Linked DNA regions of Homo sapiens: region 1 is linked to region 2. Evidence: fine-mapped expression QTL. A gene starts in region 2. The other region holds a variant in brackets. All regions are shown on one strand. Distances are between the middles of the regions. Region 1 overlaps HIP1 (huntingtin interacting protein 1). Region 2 holds the start of POR (cytochrome p450 oxidoreductase).

Evidence for each region.
Region 1: its variant is fine-mapped to the expression of POR in whole blood (TOPMed, PIP above 0.99).

Annotation. Positions count from the first base shown.
Region 1 is chr7:75,609,070-75,624,193 of GRCh38, reverse strand. The region is part of intron 1 of HIP1 (huntingtin interacting protein 1); the gene reads left to right. Among named protein-coding and RNA genes, the nearest start is that of HIP1, 120 kb to the left of the region's middle. RefSeq lists enhancers at 1-53, 54-1,007, 6,372-6,873, 12,162-12,735. The variant G/A (reference allele first, on the strand shown) is at 6,183.
Region 2 is chr7:75,909,399-75,924,522 of GRCh38, reverse strand. It overlaps POR (cytochrome p450 oxidoreductase), which reads right to left and starts at 9,368. Exons shown (of 16, transcript NM_001395413.1): 1 at 9,344-9,368. It overlaps MIR4651 (microRNA 4651), which reads right to left and starts at 9,326; the gene lies at 9,254-9,326. LOC124901680 (a long non-coding RNA gene) reads right to left here and starts at 11,982. Exons shown (of 2, transcript XR_007060393.1): 1 at 11,784-11,982; 2 at 10,029-10,227. It also overlaps the pseudogene RPL7L1P3. RefSeq lists a silencer at 9,161-9,650 and an enhancer at 9,911-9,960.

The sequences.
Region 1 (15,124 bases), 300 kb after region 2:
GATTCCGTGGCCTCCAGAGTGTAACCACAGCCTCACCGCTCACTCCATCTCTTTTCTTTGGTTCTGACCTGAGATCAGCGAGGTCTGTGCTTTGGAGGTGTGCGTGTGTTTCTTTTACAAGGTCCAGCTCTGTCTCCCAGGCCGGAGTGCAGTGGCACGATCATAGCTCACTGCAGCGTTGACCTTCAGAGCTCGAGTGATCCTCCTGCCCTCAAGCGATCCTCCTGCCTCAGCCTCCTATGTAGCTATGACTATAGGCATGAGCCACCACACCCTAATTTTCTGATGTTTTGTAGACATAGGGTCTCACTACTCCCCAGGCTGGTCTGAAACTCCTAGGCTGAAGCAGTCCTCCCGCCTCGGCCTCCCAAAGTGCTGGGATTACAAGCGTGAGCCACTGTGCCCAGCCTCAAACACTTTACAAGCCAGAAAGGCAATGAGGAGGAGGAGAAGAGTTGGTTTGAGGACAAGGGAGAGGCTCTGGGGAGAACTGGGCTGGAGAAGAGGAGGCGGAGGCTGGCTTAGTTCCTTTCTCCAAGTGCCACTTGCCTGGTCCTTGAGTGCAGCTCCAGGCATCCTGTGCATTCCTCAAATCCTGAGCTCTCAGCCCTGACCTCGCTTCCTGTTTCACTGTGAAGAGAGACGATCTGTGAAAACTGGCACTGCCCTCACCCACATGTCTGCCTCCGTCTGTGTCTGTACTGTGGGATCTGGCCCAGCCTGCCCTCCTGCTGGGCACCAGGCCCCATTCCCATCCCTGCCACTCTCCCGTCCTCTCCTCATGCGCATGCAAATGCATTATTATGTCTCCCACTGGAAACAAGAAAACCTTGAGCCCACCTCCTCCCAGCGGCTGCCCTCTCTCTCTGTCCCTCTTCACAGCAGAAACCCTGTAGAGCACTCATTGCCTCCAGCTCCCAGCCTCCCCTTTCTCTCCTCGACCTACCATCAGAGGGGGAGAGCCTTTTTTTTTTTTTTTTTTTGCTTTTTTTTTTTGAGATGGAGTCCCGCTCTGTTGCCCAGGCTGGAGTGCAGAGGCACAATCTCAGCTCATTGCAACTTCCGTCTCCCAGGTTCCAGCGATTCTCCTGCCTCAGCCTCCCGAGTAGCTGGGATTACAGGCACGCACCACCACGCCTGGCTAAATTTTTTATTTTTATTAGAGACAGGCTTTCACCATGTTGGTCAGGCTGGTCTCAAACTCCTGACCTCAGGTGATCTGCCCGCCTTAGCTTCCCAAAGTGCTAGGATTACAGGCGTGAGCCACCACACCCAGCCAATTTCCTTTAAAAAATATATAGATAGATAGATAGATAGATAGATAGATAGATAGATAGATAGATAATTATTTATTTGACAATCTTGCTCTGTTGCCCAGGCTGGAGTGCAGTAACGCAGTCATAGCTCACTACAGCCTCCAACTCCTGGGCTCAAAGTGTCCTCTTGCCTCAGCCTCCCAAAGCATTGGGATTACAGGCACCAGCCACCATGCCCGGTCAAAATGCATTTCTTCATATGGCTTCCAGGGTGCCACAGTCTCCTGGCTTCCCCCAACCTCACAGGCTGTTTCTTTTCTATCTCCATCACTGATTCCCTCCTATCCTTATTTATTTATTTAGAGACCAGGTTTTAAGACTTGCAATGTTTGTATTTTTGGTAGAGACGGGGTTTCACTGTGTTGCCCAGGCTGGTCTCGAACTCCTGGGCTCAAGCAATCCTCCTTCCTTGGACTCCCAAAGTGCTGGGATTACAGGCATGAGCCACTGCCCGTACCTGGCCTCCTGTCTCTCCTGAACGTCGGGGTGTCCTCAGGCTGTCCCCAGACATCTCATCTGCACTCACTCCTTGGTGCTCTTATCCACTCTTACATTCCGTCCAAATTTATAAATGTAGCTCAGACCTGTTCTTTTTTTTTTTGAGACAGAGTCTCACTCTATCACCCAGGCTAGAGTGCAGTGGCATGATCTCAGCTCACTGCAGCCTTCACCTCCTGAGTTCAAGCAATTCTTCTGCCTTAGCCTCCCGAGTCAGCTGGGTGGCGTGCACCACCACATCTGGCTAATTTTTGTATTTTTAGTAGAGACAGGGTTTCATCATGTTGGCCAGGCTGGTCTCGAACTGGCCTCAAGAGGTCTGCCCACCTCGGCCTCCCAAAGTGCTGGGATTACAGGTGTGAGCCACCACACCTGGCCTAGCTTAGACCTTTTCTGAACTCCAGATGCGGCACAGCCCACTGCTCACCCACAGCTCCACTGGGATACCTGGTGGGTGTGTCATGTCTAACCTAGCCCCAAACCAACTCTCCCATGGGTCCCCCCAGCTTGTTAATGGCAGCTCAGTCCCTCTAGTTGCTCAGGCAAATCATCACGATGTTCTCCTTGACTCCTTCCTTCCTCACACCCCAGATCCAGAACATCAGATAATCCCATCAGCTCTAGCTTCAAAATAAATTCAGAGACCGACCACGTCTCGACACCTCCTCTGCCTCCACCATCAATTCTGTCCTGATTGAAGGCAGCAGAGTCTTCACTGTGGTCCCTGCAGCCACACTGGTCCCTGCAGTCTGTTCTCAGCACAGCAGCCAGAGGGATCCTATTGAATCAGATCGTTTTACCGCTTTGCTCAAAACCTTCCAGGGAGGCCAGGCACACTGGCTCACCTGTTAATCTCAGCAATTTAGGAGGCCAAGGCAGGAGGATCGCTTGGGGCCAGGAGTTCAAGACCAACCTGGGCAACATGGCAAGACCCCGTCTTTACCAAAAACCGCAAAAAACAAAACCACTTCCAGTGGCCCCAGTCTTATGTGGAACAAAGGTCAGTCCTCACCATGAGCCACGAGGCCTCTAGGGATTTGGCCCCTCCTGCCCCTGACTTCCGGCTCTAGCCATACTTCCTCGCGCCTGCCAGCTGGGCTTCTGCTCGTGTGCCTAGAACTCTTCCCCCAGGTGTGTACCAGGCTCACTTCCTCTTCATGTTATTTATTTTTTGAGACAGGGTCTCACTCTGCTGCCCAGGCTAGAGTGCAGTGGCCCTATCGTAGCTCACTGCAGCCTCAAACTCCTGGGCTCAAGCCATCCTCCCACCTCTGCCACCAAGCCAGGCTAATTTTTTCATTTTAAATTTTTTTGTAGAGACAGGATCTTGCTATGTCACCCTGACTGTTCTCAAGCTCCTGGTCTCAAGCAGTCCTGCCTCCTCGGCCTCCCAAAGTGCTGAGATTTTAGGTGTGAGCCACCACGCCAGCCTCTCGTCACTTTAAAGTCTGTATCCCTCTGTCACCTCAGTACAGCCTTTCTCAGTGACCCTTTGGGAGGTTATAATGCTGCCTAGAACACTCCAGCCCTATCCTTGCCCTTATCTTTCTTCCATAGCACCTCTCGCCATCCGATTTGTTTACTGCTTGTCTCCCCTGCTAAAATATAAGCTCCGTGAGGACAGAGATCGTCATCTCTGTTCCTTGCTGTTTTATTTTGGTTTTGTTTATTTATTTGTTTGTTTGTTTGTTTTTGAGACAGAGCCTCACTCTTTCACCCAGGCTGGAGTGCAATGGTGCTATCTCAGCTCGCTGCAACCTCTGCCTCCCAGGCTCAAGCAATTCTTGTTCCTCAGCTTCCCGAGTAGCTGGGACTACAGGCATGCACCACCACCCCTGGCTAATTTTTGTATTTTCAGTAGAGACTGGTTTCACCATGTTGGCCAGGCTGGTCTCGAACTTCTGACCTCAAGTGACCCACCCACCTTGGCCTCCCAAAGTGATGGGATTACAGGCATGAGCCATTGTGCCTGGCCTTTTTTTTTTTTTTTTTTAAAGACATGGTCTTGCTCTGTTGCCCAGGCTGGTGTACAGTGGCGCAATATTGGCTCACTGCAACTTCTGCCTCCTGAGCTCAGGTGATCCTCCCACCTCAGCCTCCCAAGTAGCTGGAACTATAAGCATGCACCACCACGCCTGGATAATTTCTTGTATTTTTGTAGAGACAGGGTTTCACCATGTTGCCCCCAGCTGGTCTTGAACTCCTGGGCTCAAACAATCCACCCACCTTGGCCTCCCAAAGCGCTGGGATTACAGGCATGAGCCACCGCACCCTCACTGTATTTCTAGAGTAGTGCCAGGCATATGATAGGCCTTCCAGAAATATATGTCGAATGAATGAGTGAATATGAAAACAATTCAGAGCAGTTGTTCCCTGAGTTTAGGGAAGACCAGAGAGAGATCTGGGTGGCCCCTAAGAATCTGTTACCCGTGATCACGGTGAAACAGAAATAGATGACAGAGAGCAGGGGTGGTATCTTTTAGAAGAAAATAGGTGACCATCTATACTGGGCCAGTTCTATAGTTAGCAAGATGACATGGGAGGAGAGCTATTTTTCTGAGCTTTATGTAACAGATGTGGTTTTGTATAAATCACACTTCTGTAAACTGAATCCTCTCTTAAATGTACTAACGGAGATTGCTATTTAAGGGTATCGAATGCCAATGTCTTCTGTGAAATGAATAATAATCTCCTAATTTGGCCTTAGTGGCAATTCACATTTTCCAGAAAAAAATTTACTTACATCAAGGTATACTTGTCTGAGCTGAGAAACTGACTTCATTCTTCACATTTCCACCATCTTTATTCTTTGCTCTCATTCTTCCTTTTTGTTACTGTTTTTCTTCTCTTTTTTTTTTTTTTTTGAGACAAAGTCTTGCTCTGTCGCCCAGGCTGGAGTGATCTCGGCTCACTGCAACCTCTGCCTTCTGGGTTTAAGCAATCCTCCTGCCTCAGACTCCCGAGTAGCTGGGATTACAGCAGGCACACGCCACCACACCTGGCTAATTTTTGTATTTTTAGTAGAGATGGGGTTTCACCATGTTGGCCAGGCTGGTCTCAAACTCTTGACCTCAAGTGATCCGCCCACCTGGGCTTCCCAAAGTGCTGGGATTACAGGCATGAGCCACTGTGCCCGGCCACTGTTTTTACTTTTAGCTGAATTTTTTCTTAGACTCTGACATACAATGTTCTTCTGTAACATCACCTGAATTAACAGTGCCATGGGCCCTTCCGAGCCCAAATGAGTCCAATTTGGGGGTGGAGCAAAGGAATCTAGGGGTGTGTGTACAAACTCGGGGTACAGGATTCTCAGATGATATCCCGGCCTAGCCAAGTCTGGGAACCACTGACCAAAGGCTTTCTTTCTACACACAGCGATTCCTGCAGAAATAGAACAAAAGGTGGGATGTCAAGGATGTTGGGTGGGAGGCCAAGGTGGGAGGCTCACTGGAGCCCAGGAGGTTGAGACCAGCCTGGGCAGCATAGTGAAACCCCATCTCTACAAAAAAACTTGGAAGAAAAAAAAAAGGATGTGCTCAAGGGAGAGGCATCAGGTTTTCTAGTGCTGGGATGTGGCTGGGGCTTGGCTCATTCACTTGACAGAAAGGTCACTTCTAGAAATTGGACACTGCAAGAGACCCAGAGCTGGATAAGGGATGGTTCCCGTGCTGGGGGATCTCCTGTAAGTCAGGCATCACCCACCTTGAGTCTTCAGATCATTGGAGATAAGTAGCAGTATATTAATAAAAGAGAAGAGACAAAACTAACCTCACTGTTAGAAAGCTGGGGAAACAGCTGGGTGCGGTGGCTCATGCCTGTAATCCCGGCACTTTGGGAGACTGAGGAGGGCAGGTCACCTGGGGTCAGGAGTTCAAGACCAGCCTGGCCAACATGGTGAAACCCCCATCTCTACTGAAAATACAAAAATTAGCCACGTGTGGTAGCTCACACCTGTAATCCCAGCACTTTGGGAGGCTGAGGCAGATGAAACACTTGAGGTCAGGAGTTTGAGACCAGCTTGACCAACATGGTGAAACCCTGTTTCTACTAAAAATATAAAATTAGCCAGAGTTGGTGGCACGTGCCTGTAATCCCAGCCACTCGGGAGGCTAAGGTGTGAGAATCGCTTGAACCCAGGAGGTGGAGGTAGGTAGCAGTGAGCCGAGATCACACTACTGCACTCCAGCCTGGGTGACAGTGAAACTGTGTCTCAAGAAAAAAAATGAAAGAAAGAAAGCTGGGGCAACGAGAGGGTGGTAGAGGGCATGAAGAGAGGAAGTTGGGCAATGCTGGTGGTTTGTGGGGAGGGCGCAGCCCAGGGTTTCCCACTCTTGCTGACAAGCTGCCTATCCGGAAGGCTTCCCCCGG[G/A]AGCTCTGGCCAGGGCCATTACGAAAGGCCACTCCAGTCTGGCTCTGTGAATAGTGAAAGATCAGGATATGTCTGGTGGATTTACCCAAGGCTGCGCTTTCTAGGGAGGGTGACTTGCCCAACCAGTGACTATGATGAATGGGGAATGAGCCCTCTGGGTGCAATACCTGCCAGCGTGACTTTGCAGTTTGGGGTGCTAGGGAAGCAGAACCAAGGTTTCCTCCATGACGACAGGAGCAGCAGCCTTACAAGGGAGGAGCCCCTTTCGAAGCCACAGCTCCCTGTGGGTGAGAGGAGGGCATATGGGCCCGCTTCTCCTTTTCCCCAAGGCCTGGTGTCCGAGTCTCTTACCCTGTGCCCTACATTCCAGGCCCCTTTGAAAGCCTAAGTGGGCACCCCGAAGGTCATCACAGATGTTCTCTTATGGAGGGAGGCAGCTGGCATACGGGGAAAAGGAGACCAAGAAACCAAGACTCACGCAAGGAACCAGGCTGAGGCTGGGCGCGGTGGGTCACGCCTGTAATCCCAGCACTTTGGGAGGCCGCTGCAGGAGGATGGCTTGAGGCCAGGAGTTCGAGACCAGCCTGGGCAACACAGGGAGATCCTCACCTCTACAAATAATAAAAAATTAGTGGCTGGGTGCGGTGGCTCACGCTTGTAATCCCAGCACTTTGGGAAGCCGAGGCAGGAGGATCACCTGAGGTCAGGAGTTCAAGACCAGCCTGGTCAACATGGTGAAACCCCGTCTCTACTAAAAACTACAAAACAAATTAGCCGGGAGTGATGGTGGGTGCCTGTAATCGCAGCGACTTGGCAGGCTGAGACAAGGGAATCGCTTGAGCCGGGGAGGCGGAGGTTGCAGTGAGCTGAGATCACGCCATTGCACTCCAGCCAGGTGACAGAGCAAAACTCCATCTCAAAAAAAAAAAAAAAAAAAATTAGCTGGGTGTGGTGGCATGCACCTGTGCTCCCAACTATTTTGGGAGGCTGAGGTGGGAGGATTGCTTGAGCCCAGGAGGTCGAGGCTGCAATGAGCCATGATTGCACCACTGCACTCCAACCTGGGCAACAGAGCAAGACCTTGTCCAAACAAAAAAAAATAGTCATCTAAATGTAGTTACTGTTGTTCCCAGCATCAGTTAGATCAATCACTGTGCCTGACATATACCTCCCTGGTAAACATGAGGAGGAGGACACAGGCTCAGGCACCAGCATGCCTTACCCCAAAGTGATGGCCAGTAATCAGCCTCTGTATGTGTGGACATCCACCCTCATAGGCTGCCCTGCCTAGTCCAGGGGCCAGCAAACATTTTCTGCAAAGGGCCAGATGGTAAATGTTTTTGGCTTTGTGGCTTCCTGCTGCTACTATTTCTTCCTCCTCCTCGTCCTCCTCCTCTTCCTCCTCCTCCTCCTCCTCCTCCTCCTCCCCACCCTTAAAAAGCCAGGCATGGTGGCTAGCGCCGGTAATTCCAGCACTTTGGGAGGCTAAGGTGGGAGGATCGCTAGAAGCCAGGAGCTCAAGACCAGCCTGGGCAACAAAGTGAGACCCGGTCTCTACAAAAAAAAATTTTTTAATTAGCCTGGCGTGGTGGTGCGCACCTGTAGGCCCACCTACTTGGGAGGTGGAGGTGGGACGATTGCATGAACCCAGGAGTTCAAGGCTGTAGTGAGCTATGATCGTACCACTACACTGCAGCCTGGGCAACAGAGCAAGACTCTGTCCCTAAACAAGAACACAAAAACCAGTCCTAGCTCACAGGCCATGCACAAGCAGGCTGAGGCCAGGTTTGGCTGGTGGGCGGTGGTTTGGACCCCTAGCAGCCTGTCCTTTCTCATTCTTGTCTAGGACGATGTTACGAGATACTTTGTTTTTGTTTTTGTTTTCTTTTCTTTTCTTATCTTTTCTTTTTTTTTTTTTTTTTTTTTGAGACAGAGTCTTACTCTGTCGCCCAGGCTGGAGTGCAGTGGTGTGATCTCAGCTCACTGCAACCTCCACATCCCAGGTTCAAGCGATTCTCCTGCCTCAGCCTGCTGAGTAGCTGGGACTACAGGTGCGCACCATCACACCCAGCTAATTTTTGTATTTTTAGTAGAGACGAGGTTTCATCATATTGACCATGCTGGTCTCAAATTCCTGACCTCAGGTGATCCGCCTGCCTCAGCCTCCCAAAGTGCTGGGACTACAGGCATGAGCCACCGCGCCTGGCCATTTTTTGTTTGTTTTTGTTTTTGTTTTTTGAGACAGAGTCTCGCTGTGTCACCCAGGCTGGAGTGTAGTGGCACAATCTCGGCTCAACTGCAACCTCCACCTCCTGGGCTCAATCGATCCTCCACCTCAATCTCCTAAAGTGTTGGGATTACAGGCATAAGCACAGTCAGAGGAGAAGGAAGGAAAGGACAGGAAGGAGTAGTACAGTCTTTGTCCCTTTGAGGACAAGATCCACCTTTTTTAAGGGTGGGGAGTCAGGGTCTCCATCTGTCATTCATGATAGAGTGCAGTGGCACAGTCATAGCTCACTGCAGCCTCCAACTCCTGGGCTCAAGCAATCCTCCTGCCTCAGCCTCCCAAGTAGCCACCACTACAGATATACCACCATCCCCAGCTAAATTTTCATTTTTTGTAGAGATGGGGTCTTACCATGTTGCCCAGGCTGGTCTTGAACTCCAGGCCTCAAGTGATCCTCCTGCCTCGGCCTCTCAAAGTGCTGGGATTCCAGGCATGAGCTGCCACACCTGGCCACAGGGTCCACTTCCTATCATCTGTGTGCTCTCTCACAGCCCCTGGTGTGGTGCCCTGGATCCTGGCAGCCATGTGCAGGTGCATGGCTGTCCACAACTGTCTGTGAAAGGCCCTCTTGTGGTTGTATGGCAAAGAGCCTTACTATCTGTGTGGCAGCCTTGCCCTGCGTGTAGTAGGTATTCAGTAAAATCAGTTTCTCAGGCCAGCGTGGTGGCTCATGCCTGTAATCCCAGCACTTTGGGAGGCCGAGGCAGGTGGATCACTTGAGGTCAGGAGTTCGAGACAAGACAGGCCAACATGGTGAAACCCCGTCTCCACTAAAAATACAAAAATTAGCCAGGCGGGGTGGTGGGTGCCTGTAATCCCAGCTATCAGGAGGCTGAGGCAGGAGAATCACTTGAACCCGGGAGGCAGAGGTTGCAATGCGCCGAGATCGCGCCACTGCACTCCAGCCTGGGTGACAGAGTGAGACTCCGTCTCAGAAAAAGAAAAAAAAATCAGTTTCTCAGTGTTTTTTATCTTTTTTTTTCCTGTGACAAAATACATATAACATGAAATTCGCTATTGTAACAAATTCAAGTGTATAATTAAGCAACATCTGGCACATTCGCTATGTCGTGCAACCGACATGACTGTTTAATTTCAGAACATTTTCACTATCCGTAAAGGAAACCCTGTTCCCATTAAGCAATCACTCCCCACCCCTCTCCTACCAGGCCCCAGTGGCCACCAGTCAGCTCTCTGTCTCTATGGATCTGCCCATTCTGAGCACTTCATACAAATAGAATCACACATTGTGTCCCATTTCATGTCTGGTTTCTTTCATGTAGCATGTTTTGGAGGCTTATCTACCTTGTAACTGTGTGTGTGTGTGTGTGTCTATGTGTGTGTGTGGTGGTAAAATATACATACCATAAAATTCACCATTTTAGGGCCCAGCGCATGGCTCATGCCTGTAGTCCCAGCACTTTGGGAGGCTGGGACAGCCAAAGCGCTTGAGCCCAGGAGTTTCAGACCAGCCTGAGCAACATAGTAAGACCCCGTCTCTACAAAAATTAGCTGGGTGTGGTGGCATGTGCCTATAATCCCAGCTACTCAGGAGGCTGAGGCAGGAGGATCACTTGAGGCCAGAAGTTTGAGACCTGCCTAGGCAACACAGTGAACCCCATTTCTACAAAGGAATTTAAAAATTAGCCAGGTGTGGTGGCATACACCTGTCGTCTCAGCTATCTGGGAGGCTGAGATGGGAGGATTGCTTGAACCCAGGAGGTTAAGGTTGTAGTGAGCCATGTTTGCACCATTGTACTCCAGCCTGGGCAACAGAGGGAGACCCTGCCTAGGCAACATAGCAAACCCCATCTCTACAAAAGAATTTAAAAATTAGCCAGGTGTGGTGGCATGCACCTGTCGTCTCAGCTGCCTGGGAGGCTGAGATGGGAGATTGCTCGAATCCAGGAGGTTGAGGCTGTAGTGAGCCACGTTTGCACCACTGTACTCCAGCCTGGGCAACAGAAGGTGAGGCAGACAGTAGGGTGGAGGACGTTGGTTGGCAACAGGTTTGTGTTGGACCCTGGCAGTTACAGAAGGCAGCACGGTGTGGGAGAGGAGGCGCTCTCAGATGGACCTGGGTTTGAATTCTGGCTCCACTTCTTGCTGGCTGTACTACTTGCAAGTAGCTTGTCTTGGAAAATAGGGGCCCAGATTTCTTGCCCTCTAGGGACCAAAGGCGGATGAGAAGTAAATTACCAGTGCAGTGCCTGGGAGGAGGAAGAGGCCCAAGTGAGGGTCAGTGGCTCCTGCTACTACCACTAATCTGGTGACAATGGCTCTATGATGATTATTATTATTTTTGATCAAGAGAAGAATTAAAAAGACCCTGATGTTGGGCAGCAAATTCCAAGTGTTGTAGCTAGGACCAGAGCAGTCTCACGGAGCACAGAAGGCTCCCCACGGTGGGGACGCTCTGTTTGGCTTTCATGCCTCACCTGTCCCTCTACTCTCCCAGGCTCACCTGATCTCCATTTGGTTCTGTACTCTCCCTGTCATCCTCACTCAGGTGGTAGGTCCCAGCTGTTAACCTGAGCTATTGCCACCTGTACTGCAACCTGCCATGGCCAATTTTCTTTTCTTTCTTTCTAGTTTTCTTTTCTTTCTTTTGTGTGCATGTGTGTGTGTGTGTGTGTGTGACCCAAGTTGGAGTGGTGCAGTGGTATGATCATAGCTCACTGCAACCTTGAACTTCTGGGCTCAAGCCATCCTCCCACCTCAGTCTCCTGAGTAGCTGGGATTACAGGCACCTGCCACCATGCCCAGCTAATTTTTGTATTTTTAGTAGAGACGGAGTTTCACCATGTTGGCCAGGCTTGTCTTGAACTCCTGGCCTCAAGTGATCTGCCTGCCTCGGCCTCTCAAAGTACTGGGATTACAGCCTCTTTTTAAAAAAATTATTATTATTATTATTTGAGATGGAGTTTCACTCTTGTTGCCCAGGCTGGAGTGCAATGGCACGATCTCAGCTCACTGCAACCTCCATCTCCTGGGTTCAAGCGATTCTCCTGCCTCAGCCTCCTGAGTAGCTGGAATTACAGGCGCCCACCACCAGGCCTGGCTAATTTTTGTATTTTTAGTAGAGATAGGGTTTCACCATGTTGGTCAGGCTGGTCTTGAACTCCTGACCTCAGGTGATCCACCCGCCTCGGCCTCCCAAAGTTCAGGGATTACGGGCATGAGCCACCGCGCCCAGCCTTTATTTTATTTTTTTTGTGAGACAGAGTTTCTCTCGTCACCCAGGCTGGAGTGCAGTGGCGCGAATTCGGCTCACTGCAACCTCCACCTCGTGGGTTCAAGTGATTCTCCTGCCTCAGCCTCCTGAGTAGCTGGGACTACAGGTACGCGCCACCACCCCTGGCTAATTTTGTATTTTTAGTAGAGATGGGATTTCACCATGTCGGCCAGGCTGGTCTGGAGCTCCTGACTTTGGGTGATCCGCCCACCTCCGCCTCCCAAAGTGCTGGGATTACAGGTGGAGCCACCGTGCCCGGCCTCCTCTGCCTTTGTTTTGCCCTTCTCCTTTCCCATCTGTGCTGCCTGTTCTCAGGTTTTCCTTCTCTGGCCCCTTGCCTGGGGACCTGCCACCCCCACCCGGGGCACATCCCCGTGCCTGCTCCTGCCGTGGGACCTTTGTGAGCCAGCCTGGCCTTGGCAGCCCGAGGGCTGGGCTTCTGCCAAGAGCTGTGTGTATGTGACCTGACAGTGTCCAACTGGGCCCACAGGCCAGGCCCAGGCCCAGCTCCCCACACAAGCAAGGCCAGAGGGTTTCCCATTGGCCACTGCCTGGCTGGGCTGTCCCAGGCGAGCGGAGGATGGGGAGTGCTGGGGAGGGAGGAAGAGAGGCTGGGAGAAAGGCGCCCTTCCTGCGGTGCCTGCTGGTAATTGGCTCTCCGGAACCAGCCGGGGACACGAGGGCCTGCTGGGTCAGGAAGTGGTGGACAATGCCACCCTTTCAGGGGAGACACGGCTTGGTCTTAGGTCCTGTGTGACTCCAGGGAAGTCCAGAGAACAGCCTGTTCTCAGATGATGTTCCCTAACCCAGAGCCCCCTCCAGAGGTGAGACACCCAGCCCCGCACTGCCCGCCCTTGGTGCTGGGAGGGGCCCCCAGGCATTGGCCTGTGGCGGGGCGGGAACAGTTCAGAACCAAATGATGTCCTTCAGAGAGCCTGGGGCCGGGAGGGGAAGGGAGTAGATTTTCTCAAGAGACTGTGAATCACATACCTGGGACTTTTTTTTTTCTTTTTTTTTTTTTTTGAGACAGAGTCTCACTCTGTCACCCAGGCTGGAGTGCAGTGGCACCATCTCAGCTCACTGCAGCCTCCGCCTCCCCAGTTCAAGTGATTCTCCTGCCTCAGCCTCCCAAGTGGCTGGGACTACAGGCACGCACCACCATGTCTGGCTACTTTTTGTATTTTTGGTAGAGACAAGGTTTTGCCATTTTGGCCAGGCTGGTCTTGAACTCCGAACCTCAAGTAATCCGCCCATCTCAGCCTCCCAAAGTGCTGAGATTACAGGTATGAGCCACCGCACCTGGCGTACCTGGGACTCTTTCTAAAAAAATTTTATAGAACAGGCGCAGTTCAAGACCAGCCTAGCCAACATGGTAAAACCCTGTCTCTACTAAAAAAAAAAATACAAAATACAAAAATTAGCTGGACATGGTGGCGGGCACCTGTAATCCCAGCTACTGGGGAAGCTGAGGTAGGAGAATCACTTGAACCTGAGAGGCAGAGGTTGCAGTGAGCCAAGCTCACACCACTGCACTCCAGCTTGGGAGACAAATGGAGTGAAACTCCCATCTCAAAAAAAAAAGTATATATATATTTTATATAAATAATATATAAAATTTTAATATATATAAATATATATATATATTTTTTAATAGTGATGGGATCTTACCATGTTGCCCAGGCTGGTCTTGAACTCCTGGTCTCAAGAGATCCTCCTGCCTCGGCCTCTCAAAGTGCTGGGATTACAGGCATGAGCCACCATGCCTGGCCTCTACCTGGTACACTTTAGAGGCGAGAGTGCTGGGAAGCAGCCAGTCCTGATGACTTATGGACTTATGACCTGCCTTCGCGACTGTGGGCCTACAGGAAAGGAGAAGGCAGGGTCCTTGTGCTTGGGATTCTAGTCTGGGTAGGGAGGGAAGGTAATACTCAGTGTCAAACGTATTAAGAGAAATAGGAATTCAAAAAAAGAGAAAAAAAAGGCCAGGTGCGGTGGCTCACAACTGTTATCTCAGTACTTTGGGAGGCTGTTGGGGGAGGGTCACTTGAGCCTGAGTTCAAGACCAGCCTGGGCAACACAGGGAGACCCCATCTCTACAAAAAATACAAAAAAATTAGCTGGGTGTGGTGGCACATGCCTGGAAGTCCCAGCTTCCCGGGAGGCTAAGGCTGGAGGATCACTTGAGCACAGGCGTTCAAGGCTGCAGTGAGCTATAATCACATCACTGCACACCAGCCTGGGTGACAGAACAGGACCCTGTTTCTTATAAAAAAAAAAAAAAAAAAAGGGCTGGATGAGGTGGCTCATGCCTGTAATCCCAGCACTTTGGGAAACTGAGACAGGTGGATTACCTGAGGTCAGGAGTTCAAGACCAGCCTGGCCAACATGGCGAAACCCTGTCTCTACTAAAAATACAAAAATTAGCCAGGTGTGGTGGTGTGGGCCTATAATCCCAGCTACTCCGGAGGCTGAGGCAGGAGAATCACTTGAATTCAGGAAGCAGAGGTTGCAATGAATCAAAATTGTGCCACTGCACTCTAACCTGGGCAACAGAGCAAGACTTTGTCTCAAAAAAAAAAAAAAAAAGAAAAGAAGAGAAAAGAAAGAAGGAAGAGAGAAAAATACATTGTTGGCCTGAGTAGCTTGGTTAAGTCTTAAAAAAATAAAGGTACCTTGGGAGGCCGAGGCGGAAGATCATGAGGTCAAGAGATCGAGACCATCCTGGCCAATATGGTGAAACCCCGTCTCTTCTAAAAATATAAAAATTAGCTGGGCATGGTGGCGCACACCTGTAGTCCCAGCTACTCAGGAGACTGAGGCAGAAGAATCACTTGAACCAGGGAGGAGGAGGTTGCACTGAGCCGAGATTGCGCCACTGCACTGCAGCCTGGCGACAGGGCAAGACTCTGTTCTCAAAAAAAAAAAGAAAAAAAAAGAAAACGGTACCGTTGAGTATGAGCTTGAAGGAGGTCAGGGTTTGGAAAGTAGAAAGAAGAGGGAGCGTGTATGGTGGAGGGTGGGGTGGAGAGGTGGTATCCCAGGTACACAGTGTTAGTGAGCCATGGGAAACTGGTCCTCGCAGGGAACTTCTGCCCTGGAAACCCCTCAGTATCTGACATTCCCTGGCCCCCTGGGGGACCTACAGGTTGCCTTAGAACCCAGAATGAGCCCCCAAGAAGCCTTGCCACAGACTCGGCAATGGGCCCCAAACCATAGAGTGGGCTCTGCCTCATGGGTACAGCCACTATGATGAAGTGTTGCTTGGGGAACTGGGGCACGATGATGACAGTGCCTGAGAGCTCTTGTGAGCCCCCCCAGAGCTGCAGGAGAAGGGTCTGGGACAGTCCTGGCAAGCTCAGGCAGAGCTTACAGGTGCCTTGTAGCCGCTGGTTTAGGAAGAAACTTCTTTCCACAAGCCAG
Region 2 (15,124 bases):
TTAAATAGAGATGGTGTTTTGCCATGTGGCCCAGGATGGTCTTGAATTCCTGGGCTCTAGTGATCCGTCCACCTCGGCCTCCCACAGTGCTAAGATTATAAGCATGAGCCACTGTGCCAGGCCCTAGGATTTTTAAAATAAACAAATTTATTCATGTCTTCAGCATCCAGGTAACTGATCTAGAAAGATTTAGAGTCAGAATATTCTTCTTCAATTATAAAATGATTACTGAATAAATTATCAACTACAGAAGGAACTTGAGACACAATTTTTCTTTTCTTTTTTTTTGCAGAGACAAGTGAGCATTTATTTTTGTGCCTTTCTTCCTATGTATATTTCAAGCCTTTTTCAAGGCCCCAGGAATCTCCGGATTCAATTATGTCCCCGGGCTTGGTCGACTGCTGCAGGACTCTTAGGGAGCCTTGTACAAATGCTAGAGTTACTCATTCACCAACATTAAACCCTAGGATAGAAGATGCAACAAAGCAAGACTCCTTTCTCCACAAAATGTGATTTCAGACAAGGCAGCAGCCAACGTAGAAAACGCTGGAATTTTTCCTTGGAACTGGACTGTGATGAGAGGTGCCGCCATGAACGTAAGCTACTGTCTTTTCTTTTCTTTTTTTTTTTTTTTGAGATGGAGTTTCGCTCTTGTTGCCCAGGCTGGAGGACAAAGGTCTGATCTTGGCTCACCACAACCTCCGCCTCCCGGGTTCAAGCGATTCTCCTGCCTCAGCCTCCCCAGTAGCTGGGATTACAGGCGTGTGCCACCACGCTCAGCTAATTTTTGTATTTTTAGTAGAGACGGGGTTTCTCCATGTTGGTCAGGCTGGTTTCGAACTCCCGACCTCAGGTGATCTGCCCGCCTCAGCCTCCCAAAGTGCTAGGATTATAGGCGTGAGCCACCGGGCCCGGCCAGCCACTGTCTTTCCTTTGACCCTTCCTTTACAGTTTTTGAAGATAAAGCAGGAAATAATCTTCTCTGAAGATACTTGATAAAAATTCCACCCCGCCCCCAAAAATAACACAAGCTTCCAGTTCATTGATAAAAATTTACTGTAGTTTGGCACCTGGCTCTAGTTCAGCTGGCGGATGAGCTGATTGATGCACACACCCCCAAGAAGATGGAGGTGTGCCAATCTCCTTCAGAAAGTCCACTATTTTTGGTAGCATGACAGTCCACTGAGAGGTGGAAAGGGGACAAGAACCATGAGATCTCCTGGAAATGCTTCCTTGGGAAGGCAATTTCATGAATGAGGTCTTCCAAGCAAAAGACACCAAGCTTTCCCAGGTGCTCCTCAATCACTGTGTTGTCAGAGGGATGGTCTTATTCTTGACCTTGGCTTGTCTACGTTTCAAAATGAGTTTCTGGACAGACTTCAGATTTGGAAATCCCCAGGTCACATAAGGTTACATACTATACGCTGCATTTTTAGGTTTAAGTCTTGCAATGGCTCTCCGCACCAGTAAACTCACACCATCAATCCTTTCGACGCGTACAACAAAGGCCAAGGAATGTTTATCTGGCGATTCCAAGGTGTGAGGTTTTACTTCTAGTCGTCTGAGACACACCTTGTCATGTTTCTGCCGCCAGGAATCATGTAGGAATGATTCCAGTCGTTTAAACCTGAGCTCTTTTCCTTCCCTCTGCTCCTCCTTTGCCAAAAGTGCCTACTTTGACTGGGTGGCTTTGAGGCCTTGATAAGCCTTCTGCTTTCAGGAGATTTTCTGGAGCCAAAGGGATTTTTCTTTGCTCCTGCTTTGCCATCTTTCTAGTGTTGCAGCTACTGAACATGCGCAACCCCACCACTGACACAAAATTTTATACCTGGATGGAAAACTAAAGTCCTACCAAAAGTTCCTACTGTACTTTGGAATAATCTTCAGAAGTACAGACCAGGCCAGGCGCAGTGGCTCACGCCTGTAATCCCAGCACTTCGGAAGGCCGAGGCGGGCAGACTGCTTCAGGTCAGGCATTCGAGACCAGCTGGGCAACATGGTGAAACCCCATCTGTACTAAAATTACAAAAAATTAGCCAGGCATGATGGCACACACCTATAATTCCAGCTACTCAGGAGGTTGAGGCACGAGAATTGCTTGAACCCAGGAGGCAGAGGTTGCAGTGAGCCAAGATTGCGCCACTGCACTCCAGCCTGGGCGACAGAGTGACAGGCTCTGTCTCAAAAAAAAAAAAAAAAAAAACTACAGATCAGACCCAATTTTGACATCTGAGCTCAGTCAATATGCAGGAGAAAGCTCAGCAGTAAACTTGGGGGACAGAAGCCATATTTATTCATTCATCCATTCATCCAAGTGCCTACCTTATGCCTGGCATTGTTCTATGCCCCAGCTTACACTCGCAGAAATGATAGGTTCCCTGTTCTCAACTGAATTCACCTTCTAGTCCAACCGTATTGCCACTAGGGAGGGGAGAATTAGACACCTTTTATTAAGTCACTGTTTATCCTTTATGAAAGCAGATGAAGAAGAAAACATGCAATAAGACAGTGACAGTGACCGGGCACAGTGGCTCCTGCCTATTATCCCAGCACTTTGGGAGGCTGAGCTGGGTGGACCACTTAAGGCCAGGAGTTCGAGACTGGCCTGGCCAACATGGTGAAACCCTGTCTCTACTAGAAATACAAAAATTAGCTAGGTGTGGAGGCACGTGCCTGTAGTGCCAGCTACTCGGGAGGCTGAGGCAGGAGAATCACTTGAACCTGACAGGTGGAGGTTGCAGTGAGCCAAATCGTGCCACTGCACTCCAGTCTGGGCGAAGAGAAAGGAGGGGTGACCGAAGCAGGGTTCCAAGATCAACCAGCAATGGTACCATGGACAGATCTTGGAACGTGGTAGGGAGGGGAAGAGAGGGAGAATTATGGGTCAATTACGGGTCAGCGCAGCAGGAAGTGACAAGGGGCTACAGTAAGACCACAGCAGTGGAAAGAGATTTAAAGGGCCGGGCGTGGTGGCTCACGCCTGCTGTAATCCCAGCACTTTGGGAGGCCGAGGCAGGCAGATCGCCTGAGGTCAGGAGTTCGAGACCAGCCTGGCCAACACAGTGAAACCCTGTCTCTACTAAAAATACAAAAATTAGCTGGGCGCGGTGCCGCGCACCTATAATCCCAGCTACTCGGGAAGCTGAGGCAGGAGAATCACTTGAACCTGGGAGGCAGAGGTTGCAGTGAGCTGAGATTGTGTCACTGCACTCTGAACAACAGAGCAAGAATCTGTCTCAAAAAAAAAAAAAAAAAAAGACTAAAAACTTACAGGACTTGGTGGTGGTGGGAGACCCAGAATGGAGAGGAAGGGAAAAGGGACAGGAGTCTTTTGTCCTTGGAGCTTCAGGGCCCAGGAAGTCGGTGAGGCCACTGACAGATAGAGCTCTTGTTGTGGAGGTTTCGGGTAGATGGGCTGGGAGCTTTTGATCACTGCTGTGACGCTGAATGACTCCTGAGTTTGCAAATCACGTTACGTAAGGAACGCGTCCAACGTGTCCATGTTAAGACTGTGTGGTTTCATGAGCAGTCAAAGGGTCTGAAGCCCTTCACCAAAACCAACAGTGGCTTTTCTCCACAAGACCACAAATACCTGACGGAACATTCCTGATGCCAAACTGCACTCTGAATGATGCCGGGCACCACTGGCTAATGCACTCTCCTGTGTATTCAAGAACTGCCATCCCTGTTTGCAGTGTTGAAAACTCAACCCAGGTGACCTATGGTCACTACATATGAGTTCAGAAAGTTCAGAAAGGTGACCGTAGTTCACGTGTTCCTAACCAAACCTGCAAACCTTTGTACAGGCCCGGCTTACCCAATGCACTGATGATGCATGCCCACGAAGATCAAAGTATCACTAGGACACAGTGCTCTAAGAACACCGGCATCACCACCGCAGAGGTGATGTGACGTGAGCTCAGAAACAGGGCTGTAGGAAAAAGTGCCGAAGATAAAAGGAGGGCAGATAAATAGAATGAGTAAGCACTGTTCTTAACTTTCACCTAGAAATAAATTACATCTGTTCCAAGTTAGAGGACACGCCCCACAATGCCCCATCTTCCTCCTCATTACTACATCCAAGTAGACAAAAGGCAACTTTCCCCCTTCTATTCTCCTACCAAATGTCTCCTAAAGAATTCAATTCTTATAAGCTGGACATGGTGGCTCACGCCTGGTAATCCTAGCACTTTGGGAGGCTGAGGCGGGTGGATCACTTGAGGTCAGGAGTTTGAAACCAGCCTGGCCAACACAGTGAAACCTCATCTCTACTAAAAATACAAAAAAAAATTAGCCGGGCGTGATGGCACGCGCCTGTAATCCCAGCTACTTGGGAGGCTGAGGCAGAAGAATTGCTTGAACCTGGAAGGCAGAGGTTGCAGTGAGCCAAGATCACACCACTGCACTCCAGCCTAGGCGAGAGAGTCAGACTCTGTCTCAAAAAAAAAAAAAAAAAAAAAAAAAAAGAAATTCAACTCTTGGAGAACAGTCCACAGCTGACAGCACCACAGTCTGGCCACCAACATATTCTAAGTTAGCCTTGAAACTGACGCATTTCGGGAAATTATGTGTACAATTCTCTCAGCTAGGTACAGATGCTGCACAAAGGAGATCCGAATGCCACACCCTCCAGCACTCCAATGAAAGGACAATTCTTAGATATCCCCCTATCCAAGTCACCTCTTTAACAAGTGAAATAAATAAGCTTCCCACATCAACAGTTTGCTGCACAAGCCACCAGAAGGATCAGGTTCCCCGGGGCTTTGTTCACAACACGTCCAAGCATCAACTGAGTTGCCACACCGACCAGCGTCAGGAGTAACAGTTACTGGGCTGGGCGCGGTGGCTCATGCCTGTAATCCCAGCGTTTTGGGAGGCTGAGATAGGAGGCTCACTTGAGGCCAGGAGTTTGAAACTAGCCTGGGCAACATAGCCAGACCCCACTTCTACAAATAATAAATAAATAAATAAACATACAGAGAGAGAAAAGGAAAGAAAGAAACAAACTGATGAACGTGGCTCCAGTGAACCCAACCAACTGGAGCCACCAATCTGCAAAGAACCATGGTCTGCCCCCATGGAATTCCTCCATCTTCTCTCCCTCTTATATGCATACACACACACACACACACACACACACGCACGCACAGATGCAGACAGGCGTGTGCACACTAATCCCAACAAGAACACAACTGATGTAAACATCTCGCTTGGGGAGGAAAAACTTTTAAGATGTAGAGCTCTAAAACAGTATGATTACAAATTTAGACACAGTAAAAATTTCCCAAATGGTTGTTCATTCACCCAGAGAGGATATTAGGCAGTAAGAGAATATTCAGTACAAGAAAACACTGTCCTGAGCCAGACATGGTGGCCGGTGCCTGTAATCCTAGCTACTCGGGAGGCTGAGGCACAAGAATTGCTTGAACCCAGGAGACAGAGGTTGCAGTGAGCCAAGATCACACCACTGCACTCCAGCCTGGGTGACAGAGTGAGACTCTGTCTAAAAAAAAAAAAAACACACAACACTGATCTGAGCTAGTCACATAGCCCTGACCTTTTAAAACACCTCCCCATCTCTTCCCATGGTTCCTAGGACCATTTCAGACAAGTGCCACCACGCGACCTCAGCCTCATGCAATCTACACCCTACATGCCCCCCAGAGCTGGTGTGCCTGGGTGGGCTCAGAGAACTCCTAGCAATCCTCCAAGACCCAACTCAAACATCACCTCTCCCCTGGAGCCCTGCTGTGGAAACAAACAGCAGGCTCAGCACTAATAAAAGCCTCACCCCATCATCTTGAGAATGAATGCAACACACCGTGCCATTCTTGTTGAATTGTATGCTTGCTTCCCTCCCTGTGAGAGTTCTCAAGTGCCCAAACCAGAGCCTACACATATCCTAAGGCCGGATGTGTGCTTTTTTATGTGTCACGCTACAGGGATCCAAACAGCGCCAAGAAGATGAAGAAGGACCCACTGCTGAAAGGGTTAACATGTTCTGAGCTGTCCCAGAGGCAGGTGGAGTGGGTTCTTTCTCTGACTTTAGTGATGAAGAAACTAAGGCTTGGTATAGGTCAGCGGCCTATGCAAGCAGGTAAGTGACCTCTGACTCAGATGCTTCTCCCACCTGCCCGGCGGGTCCAAATTTCTGCCCAATGCCAGATGACAAAACTGCACAGCAAAACAAGTTGTTGTTTTTTGGGTTTTTTTTTCTGAGACAGAGTCTCACTCTGTCACCCAGGCTGGAGTGCAGCAGCACGATCTCGGCTCACTGCAACCTCCGCTTCCCAGGTTCAAGTGATTCTTCTGCCTCAGCCTCCTGAGTAGTTGGGATTACAGGTGCACACCACCACACCGGCTAATTTTTGTATTTTTAGTAGAGACGGGGTTTCACCACGTTGGCCAGGCTGGTCTCGAACTCCTGACCTCAAGTGATCTGCCTGCCTCGGCCTCCCAAAGTGCTGGGATTACAGGCGTGAGCCACCATGCCCAGTCAATTTTTGTATTTGTATTTTTTTTATAGAGACAGGGATTCGCCGTGTTGCCCAGGCTGGTCTCAAACTCCTGGACTCAAGCAATTCACCCACCTTGGTCTCCCAAAGTGCCGGAATTACAGGCGTGAGCCACTGTTCCCAGCCTAGAATTGGCATTTGAAAGTCTTTTAAGGCTGTAGCCACCTGGGAGGCTGTGTGCTAATGAGCACAGAATCTTTGGCCAGGTGGTGGGTACTCGAAATTCCAGCTACTCAGGAGGCTGAGGCAGAATTCAAGCAAGGAAAATTGCTTGAACCTGGGGGAGGTGGAGGCTGCACTGAGCCCACTGCGCTCCAGCCTGGGCGACAGAGCGAGACTCCATCTCAAAAAAAGAAAAGAAAAGAAAAGAAAATTGTCATTTCTCCATTTCACCTTTTTCTAACTTTAATTTTTAAGTGAGTCTGACATATAACAGAAAGTTAAATCCCAACATGCTCAATTGAGGCCACACACGGTGCTAGTGCCAGAGCTTGACCTCTGTTTCTCTGGCTCCTCCCTAAAGCACAAGGACATCGAAGCTCTTGTAGGGGCGGCCAGCCTCTCTGGAACCATGAAAGGTCCTATAACTTCAAGAGCTTCCATCAGAAAAAAAAAAAAAAAAAAGAAGAAGAAATAAGAAAGCCAGGAACGGTGGCTCACACCTGTAATCTCAGCACTTTAGGAGGTCAAAGCAGGAGGACCACTTGAACCCCAGAATTCGAGACCAGCCTGGGCAACATGGCAAACCAAATCTCTAAAAAACATTTAAAAAATTAGCTGGGTGTGGTGGTGCGTGCCTGTACTCCCAACTACTTGGGAGGCTGAGGAGGGAGGATTGCTTGAATCCTGGAGGTTGAGGCTGCAGTGAGCTATGATTGCGCCACTGCACTCCAGCCTGCACGACAGAGTGAGACCTGTCTCACAAAAAAAAAAAAGTTACTTAAAAGCTAAATTATTTTTAACTTGAAATGTTCCATGGACTTCACGAGTAAATGTTCTGGATTTGCCAAGCAGTTTTGATTTCAATTGGCCTGTCTCCTAATCATACACAGACTTACCTAACACAGATTCTGATTTTCAAGGGGTTAAGGGTGGATCAACCCAGAGTTAACCAACAGCAGGTCCTAAAATTCAGGTATGTCTGGCAGCAAACATCCTCTGTGGCATTTATAAACTCCTACTACCCAGGACGATCCACACCTGATTTACATTGGCTGCGGTCAATGCTGCTGTTTTCAGGAATATCCCTGGGTTGTTTCATTTCAAATCTACCTATTATTTCTTCAAGTGCTAGACCTGAAGAATTTTGGAAAATTAAGATCACTCCTAAGTTTCCACACCACCACGCAACTGGCAGCTAGCATCCCATTCTCTGAAATGCGGATGTTGTACAAATACTTTTTATAATAAGCTATCTGCTCAGCGAAAGTTTCCAACATTAGATGGCATGAAGGTCATAAGTAGCTCAAAAACCACTCTCTTAAAAGGAAAATAAGAACTCCTAAAACAGCCCTCCTCCCAAAAAAAAGGAAGTGGACCTTTCTGGGTTCCCTGGTTTACTAACTGGGCCTTTGGAGCTGTTCTCCTGACCAAGCCAACCCCATAACCACTCAAAAGGGATTTCCGTAGGTAGAACTTGCAAATGGTTAATGAATCAATGCCTTCTCCATAAAGCAAGACCCAAGGAATTACAGCAGTGAACAACGGTGGGGATACTGGATCCCCCAGAGGGTTCCATAAACGTTCTGCTTACAAGGAGGATTAAAGTTCTCGATGCCACTCTCTGGGACCCTGTCTTGATCCTCAGAATCTCAACCCTGTGGGGAGAGCAGGGTGGCTGTCTTACTACCAGACCCACTGATCAGAAAACGGAGGCTCCAGGAGGTATCTTGCTTGCCAAGAATCAAACCAGGGCCACCCAGTCCAGTCCTGTCTCCTTTTGTGCTGGCATCATTCTCCAGCTTGGCCAAGCTCAGAGGCAAGGCAAGGCAAGGCTGCAGCTTTAAGGGTTTAAGAGAGGAGACAGCCACTTTCATTGAAACAGCCCCAAACTCCTTATTAGTGGTCACCAGTTTACACAAGGGTAACTCGTTTTGAAAAACAATACGCAGAAAGTCGAAGTCAATCAAGCTCACTGAAACCTCTACTCTCCTCCCCCTGGCGCCCAAGAGACCTTGAACTCTTACCCAATTGCTCCCCCGATCTAAGGGTGTCCCGGCTCCCCCAGGAGATCCGGGTACCTGTGTTGTGGGGGCCGCCGAGACACCTGACTGCGAGGGGCACTGCCCTCAGGGATGCAGGCCGGGCTGGGGGGCTCCCGTGATCCATCGACTCAGCCCACCTGATGCTGCAGGGTTAGATTCGGGTCCCATGAGCATGCATCGAGCGCCTCTCACGTTAGGTACCCCCAGAATTCGCTGCCTCCCGAGGCCCATTCATCGTACAGATGGGGAAACTGAGGCTCGGAGAGTTAAAGTGGCTTAGCCCGTGGGGGGCGGCGGCGCGGGGACTGGACCCCGAGCCCTGAGATACCGAGCCCTAACCCTCAGCCGAGGGCCTGCCGGGCTCTCTCGGCCCAAGCTGTGGAAAAGTCGACCCTCAGGCCGCCGCGGGAGATCAGCTCTAGGGGAAGGGCGACGCGGAGGAGGGCCGGGGTGGGAGCCATGCCTTCCGCCCGAGCGTCGGGCCAGACGCGCAGTGCCCAGGCCCGAGGGCCCACCCCGACGCAGAGAGCCAGGCGGCCGCGGTGAACTGAGGCGCCCGGCAAACCCCGAGTCTTGGGGCCCGACCTCACCCACCCCGCCGTCGCCGCGAAAGATAGCACTCACCGCTGGCAGCCCGGCTGCTCTCTGCGGGCACCTGGGCAGGGCTCAGGCCCACACCACTGAGGCGCTACCACCGCCTTCGCCGGCCGCGGGGGTGGGGGCGTGGCCATTGGGCCGCCGCCCCGCCCACTCGAGCCGCGCGTGCATTCCCGGAGCCCCGCGCTTCCCCCTGCAAATTTGCGCTCTTGGTACGGCCCGGCCCGGCCACGCCCCCTCGCGGCTCGGCTGGGTCGCCCGGCAGAGAAATGAAAGTGCGTGGTTCCGGGGGTGGCGGAGTCGCCTGGAGACGGCGGCTGCGGCTTCTACAGCTCGGACCCTGCAGGTCACCGGGCCGGCTGCCCACCTTCCCGGGGATCACTGCAGAACTGTGGCTGTGCGCCCGCCGGTCTAGCCTCCTCCTTCGGGCCGCCGCTTGCTTGTGATCGCCACATTGTCTCCTCCACGGCCCTGTTTCCTCACCTGAAATTGGCGAGGCTTCAGGCCCAAGTCGTCTCCCTGGGTTCCCTCCATCCAGCCTGACGGCGGAGGGCGCGCGTTTGTTTTTAGAGACAGGGTCTCGTTCTGTCGCCCAGGCTGGATTGCAGTGGTGCAGTCACAGCTCACTGCAGCCTTCAACTCCTGTGCTCAGGCGATTCTCCCACTTCAGCCTCCCAGTAGCTGGGACTACAGGCGCGCCACCACACCTAGCTAATTTTATTTTATTTTATTTGCAGAGATGCGGTCTCGCTATGATGCCCAGGTTGGTCTCGAACTGGTCTCAAGTGATCCTCCCTCCTCGGCCTCTCAAAGCGCTGCGATTACAGGCGTGAGGTCCCACACGCTGCCTAGAGCTCGCTTTTGAAGGCCGGCCTGTTGGGGGTGGGAAGTGACCAAGCAGGAGGCAAGCCCTGGATGGAAGAGGAGTGGGGGGATACAGAGAGCTTCTGGGGTTTGAAAAGTCTGGCAGCCTTGGTTGGGGAGTGAAGCCCACCTCTGCCTCCTGCTATGGTTTCTACTTTACAGGGTCATGAAGATTAAGTGGTATAACCTTTGTTCCTAAAGGATTTAGAGCACGGCATTACTAAGTGTTCTCATCGCCATTGTTATTATTACTACTACTACTATTATTACTAGCTGTGCTGTGAATTCCTTTTGCAACACTGTGCAACTCACTTCTCTCAGAGCCCCTTCTCCATCTTTTAAAAATAGCCCAGGCACGGTGGCTCACGCCTGTAATCCCAGAACTTTGGTAGGCTGAGGTGGGCGGATCACCTGAGGTCAGGAGTTCGAGACCAGCCTGACCAACATGGCAAAACCCCGTCTCTACTAAAAATACAAAAATTAGCTGGGCATGGTGGCGGGTGCCTGTAATCCCACCTACTGGGGAGACTGAGGCAGGAGACCCACTTGAACCCCGGAGGCAGAGGTTGCAGTGAGCCCAGTTCACACCACTGCACTCCAGTGTGGCCGACAGAGTGACACTCCGTCTCACAAAAAAAAAAAAGTTAATTTATAAAATAATACATAAATATAACATTTATATATTATATAAATGTTATATTTGTTATATTTATATATTATATAAATAATATATATTATATAATAACATATATGTTACTTATTTTTTGAAACAGGGTCTCCCTTTGTCGCTGAGGCTGGGATGCAGCCTCGACCTCCTGGGCTCAGGTGATCCTCCTGCCTCAGCCTCCCTAGTAGCTGGAATTACAGGCATGCGCCACCACAACTGGCTAATTTTTGTATTTTTATTTTTCATTTTAAAGAAAGTTGATTGAAATTTTTTTGTAGAGATGGTGTTTTGCCATGTTTCCCAGGCTGGTCTCAAACTCCAGACCTCAAGCAGTCCTCCCACCTTGGCCTCCCAAAGTGCTGAGATTACAGGTGTGAGCACTGCACCTAGCCTAATTTTTAAATTTTTTGTAGAGACAGAGTCTCGCTATGTTGCCCAACCTGGTCTTGAACTCCTGGCCTCAAGGGATCCCTTGCCTCGGCCTCCCAAAGTGCAGGAATTACAGATGTGAGCCACCATTCCCATCCACTCTTCATCTTTAAAATATTGTGAAAATAGCAAAATCCTATATAAAGAGATTATTACCATGGCCCAGGTGCCAGGTTTCCTATGTCCAGGAACCAGTCCCTCCAACAGGTTGGATGAATGCAGTAGCCCTCAGGGTGGGGCACAATACCTGTCCAAAGAAGGGACTGAACTCCACACTCACCCAGAGAGAGAGCTGTGGAGAAATTCACCCAGATATCTGATACTCTGTGCCATCTTTTCAACACCCTGTTGGACATCTCCCCAGGATGTCCCAGTGAGGCTTCAAATTTGGACTTTGACTCCATGCCCCCTGCTTTTTTTGAAACCAGAACTCCTAAAACACTGAGTCTTCTCTGTCTGCTAATAATATAGCATCACTAAGGAAACATCAGGAAACAGGCATTTTACCTCTTTGGCCTTTTCCCATTGAACCAATAACTGGGTCCTATGGATTCTATCTCCAGAACCTCCTCTTGTCATCTTTTCTGCTGTCCCTGTTCCAGTTGGGGCCACGTGGGTTCACCGTTCACCTGGATGATCTCAGCAGCTTCCTGACTTTTTTGGGGGGGATGGAGTCTCACTGTGTCACCCAGGCTGCAGTGCAGGGGCACCATCTCAGCTCACTGCAACCTCTGCCTCCTGAGTTCAAGCGATTCTCCTGCCTCAGCTGCCTGAGTAGCTGGGATTACAGACTTGTGCCACCACACCCGGCTAATTTTTGTATTTCTAGTAGAGATGGGGTTTCACCATATTGGCCAGGCTGCTCTCGAACTCCTGACCTCAGGTGATCCATCTGCCTTGGCCTCCCAAAGTGCTGGGATTACAGGTGTGAGCCACCGCACCTAGCCGGCTTCCTGACTGTTTATGTCACTTCTCGTTTCTGCTACACCCACTGGCAAGGAAGCCTCTTTTTTTTTTTTTTTTTTTTTTTTTTTTTTTTGAGACAGGGTCTCACTCTGACACCCAGGCTGAAGTGTAGTGGTGAGATCTAGGCTCACTGCAACCTCCACCTCCTGGGTTCAAGCGATTCTCCTGCCTCAGCCTCCTGAGTAGCTGGGATCACAGGTGTGCACCACCACACCTGGCTAATTTTTGTATTTTTAGTAGAGACGGGGTTTTGCCATGTTGGCCAAGCTGGTCTCGAACTCCTGACCTCAGGTGATCCATCCTCCTCAGACTCCCAAAGTGCTGGGATTACAGGCGTGAGCCACCACACCGAGCTGAAAGCTTCTCTTCTTCAGTTACTGTCCTCCTCATTGTCCTACCTTCCTCTCCTTCCCTCCCCACCCCCACCCCGAAAAAACACTCTCGCTGGCCAGCTGGGGGGAAAAAAAGTAGGTTGCATCCACATCTCACATATTACACTAATATAAATTCCAGATAGATAAAATATTTAAATGATTTTTTAAGGGAGAAGGAAAAAAAAAGCCCCCAAAAGTCCATGGGAGAATTGGTGTTAATAATCCCCAAGAGGCATTTCTAAATTATGAAATTATGACATAAACTCCAGAAGCCATAAATGAAAACATTGAGAAATAATCTGGGCTGGGTACAGTGGCTCACGCCTGTCATCCCAGCACTTTGGGAGGCTGAGGTGGGAGGATCGCTAGAGCCCAGGAGTTCGAGATCAGCCTGGCCAACATGACGAAACCCCGTCTCTACTAAAAATACAAAAATTAGCTGAGCATGGTGGCACATGCCTGTAGTCCCAGGGGTGGCTGAGACAGGAGAATGGCTTGAACCCGGGAGGCAGAGGTTGCAGTGAGCTGAGATTGCGCCACTGCACTCCAGCCTGGGTAACAGACTGAGACTCCGTCTCAAAAAAACAAAAACAAACAAACAAGGGGCCGGCAGGGCACGGTGGCTCACACCTGTAATCCCAACACTTTGAGAGGCCGAGGCAGGCAGATTACTTGAGGTCAGGAGTTTGAGACCAGCCTGGCCAACATGGTGAAACCTCGTCTCTTAAAAATACAAAACATTAGCTGGGCGTGGTGGGCGCCTGTAATCCCAGCTAGTCGGGAGGCTGAGGCAGGAGAATCGCTTGAACCTGGGAGGCGGAGTTTGCAGTGAGCCAAGGGTGCACCACTGCACTCCAGCCGGGGTGACAGAGTGAGACTCTTGTCTCAAACAAACAAACAAACAAGGAAGGAAGCTCATTGCTTAAACAGAAAAATCTCTGAGACAAATTGATAAATATGCAAGGTACAGAACAGTAGGTATAGAATGTTACCGTTTGTATGTTCTCAAACAATTGTGGTGGGAAATGAGGGAAGAACATAGATACTAGGTATACATATTTGCCTGTATGTGCATGAAATACCTCCTGAAACAAAAACAAAAACAAAAAAAAAAAAAAGGGAGGGAGGTAAGGTTGGTTGTCTCTGGAGAACTGGGAGGAGGGAGACCAGGGGCAAAGGAATATATTTCACTATATACTACTCTGTATCATTCAAATTTTGTACCTTATGAATGTATTACTTATTCTAAGTCAAATACATAAATACCTTTTTTTGTTTTAAATTAGAGACTGGGTTTTGCTCTGTCGCCCAGGATGGAGTACAGTGGCATGATCATGGCTCACTACAACCTCTGCCTCCTGGGCTCAGGCAATCCTCCCACCTCAGCCTCCGAGTAGCTGGAACTACAGGTGAGCACCACCACACCTGGCTAATTTATTTTTTATTTGTTGTTGAGAGAGGGTCTCGCTATGTGGCTGGTCTTGAACTCCTGGGCTCAAGTGATCCTCCCACCTCGGCCTCTCAAAGCGCTGGGATTCCAGGTGTCAGCCTCTACACCCAGCTCATAAATACTTTTTAAATACCCAGATAATCTTGCTGCTGGCCAAAGAACAAACTTTTACTTGCTCCCCAAATCTAAAGAATAGTGACTATAGACTTGATTTTCTTTTTTTTTAAGGTGGAGTATTGTTCTGTCGCCTAGGCTTGAGTGCAGTGGTGTGATCTTGACTCACTGCAACCTCCTCCTTCTGGGTTCAAGCGATTCTCCTGCCTCAGCCTCCAGAGTAGCTGGGACTGCAGGTGCGCTCCACCACGCCCAGCTAATTTTTTATATTTTTAGTAGAGATGGGGTTTCACCACTTTGGCCAGGCTGGTCTCGAACTCCTGACCTCAAGTGATCCACCTGCCTCGACCTCCCAAAGCGCTGGGATTATAGGCATGAGCCAATGCATCTGGCTGAAAGGATAAATTCTTCTCTTTTTTAGCATTTTCTTCTGGTCATTACAGCCATGCTGGTACATACATGTTTTTCTGGCTGATTTTGACCTGTGACTTTCTTTTCTTCTTCTTCTTTCTTCTTCTCTCTTCTTCTTCTTCCTCCTCCTTCTTCTTCTCTTCCTCTTCCTCCTCTTCCTTCTTCTTTTCTTCTTCTTTCTTCTTCTTTTCTTTTCTCCTTCTTCTCCTCCTTCCTCTTCTCCTCTCCTTCCTCTTTTCCTTCCTCTCCTTCCTCTCTTTCCTCTCCCACCTCTCCCTCCTCTCCCTCTTCCTCTTCTTCCTCTTCCTCCTCTTCTTCTTCCTTCCTCTTCCTCTTCTTCTCTTTCTTCTTTCTCCTCCTCCTCCTTGTTCTTCTTTTCTTTTCTTTTCTTTTCTTTTTTAAATATAGAGACAGGCCAGGTGCGGTGGCTGACGCCTGTAATCCCAACACTTTGGGAGGCCAAGGCGGGCGGATCACTTGAGGTCAGCAGTTCAAGACCAGCCTGGCCAACATGGTGAAACTCGGTCTCTACT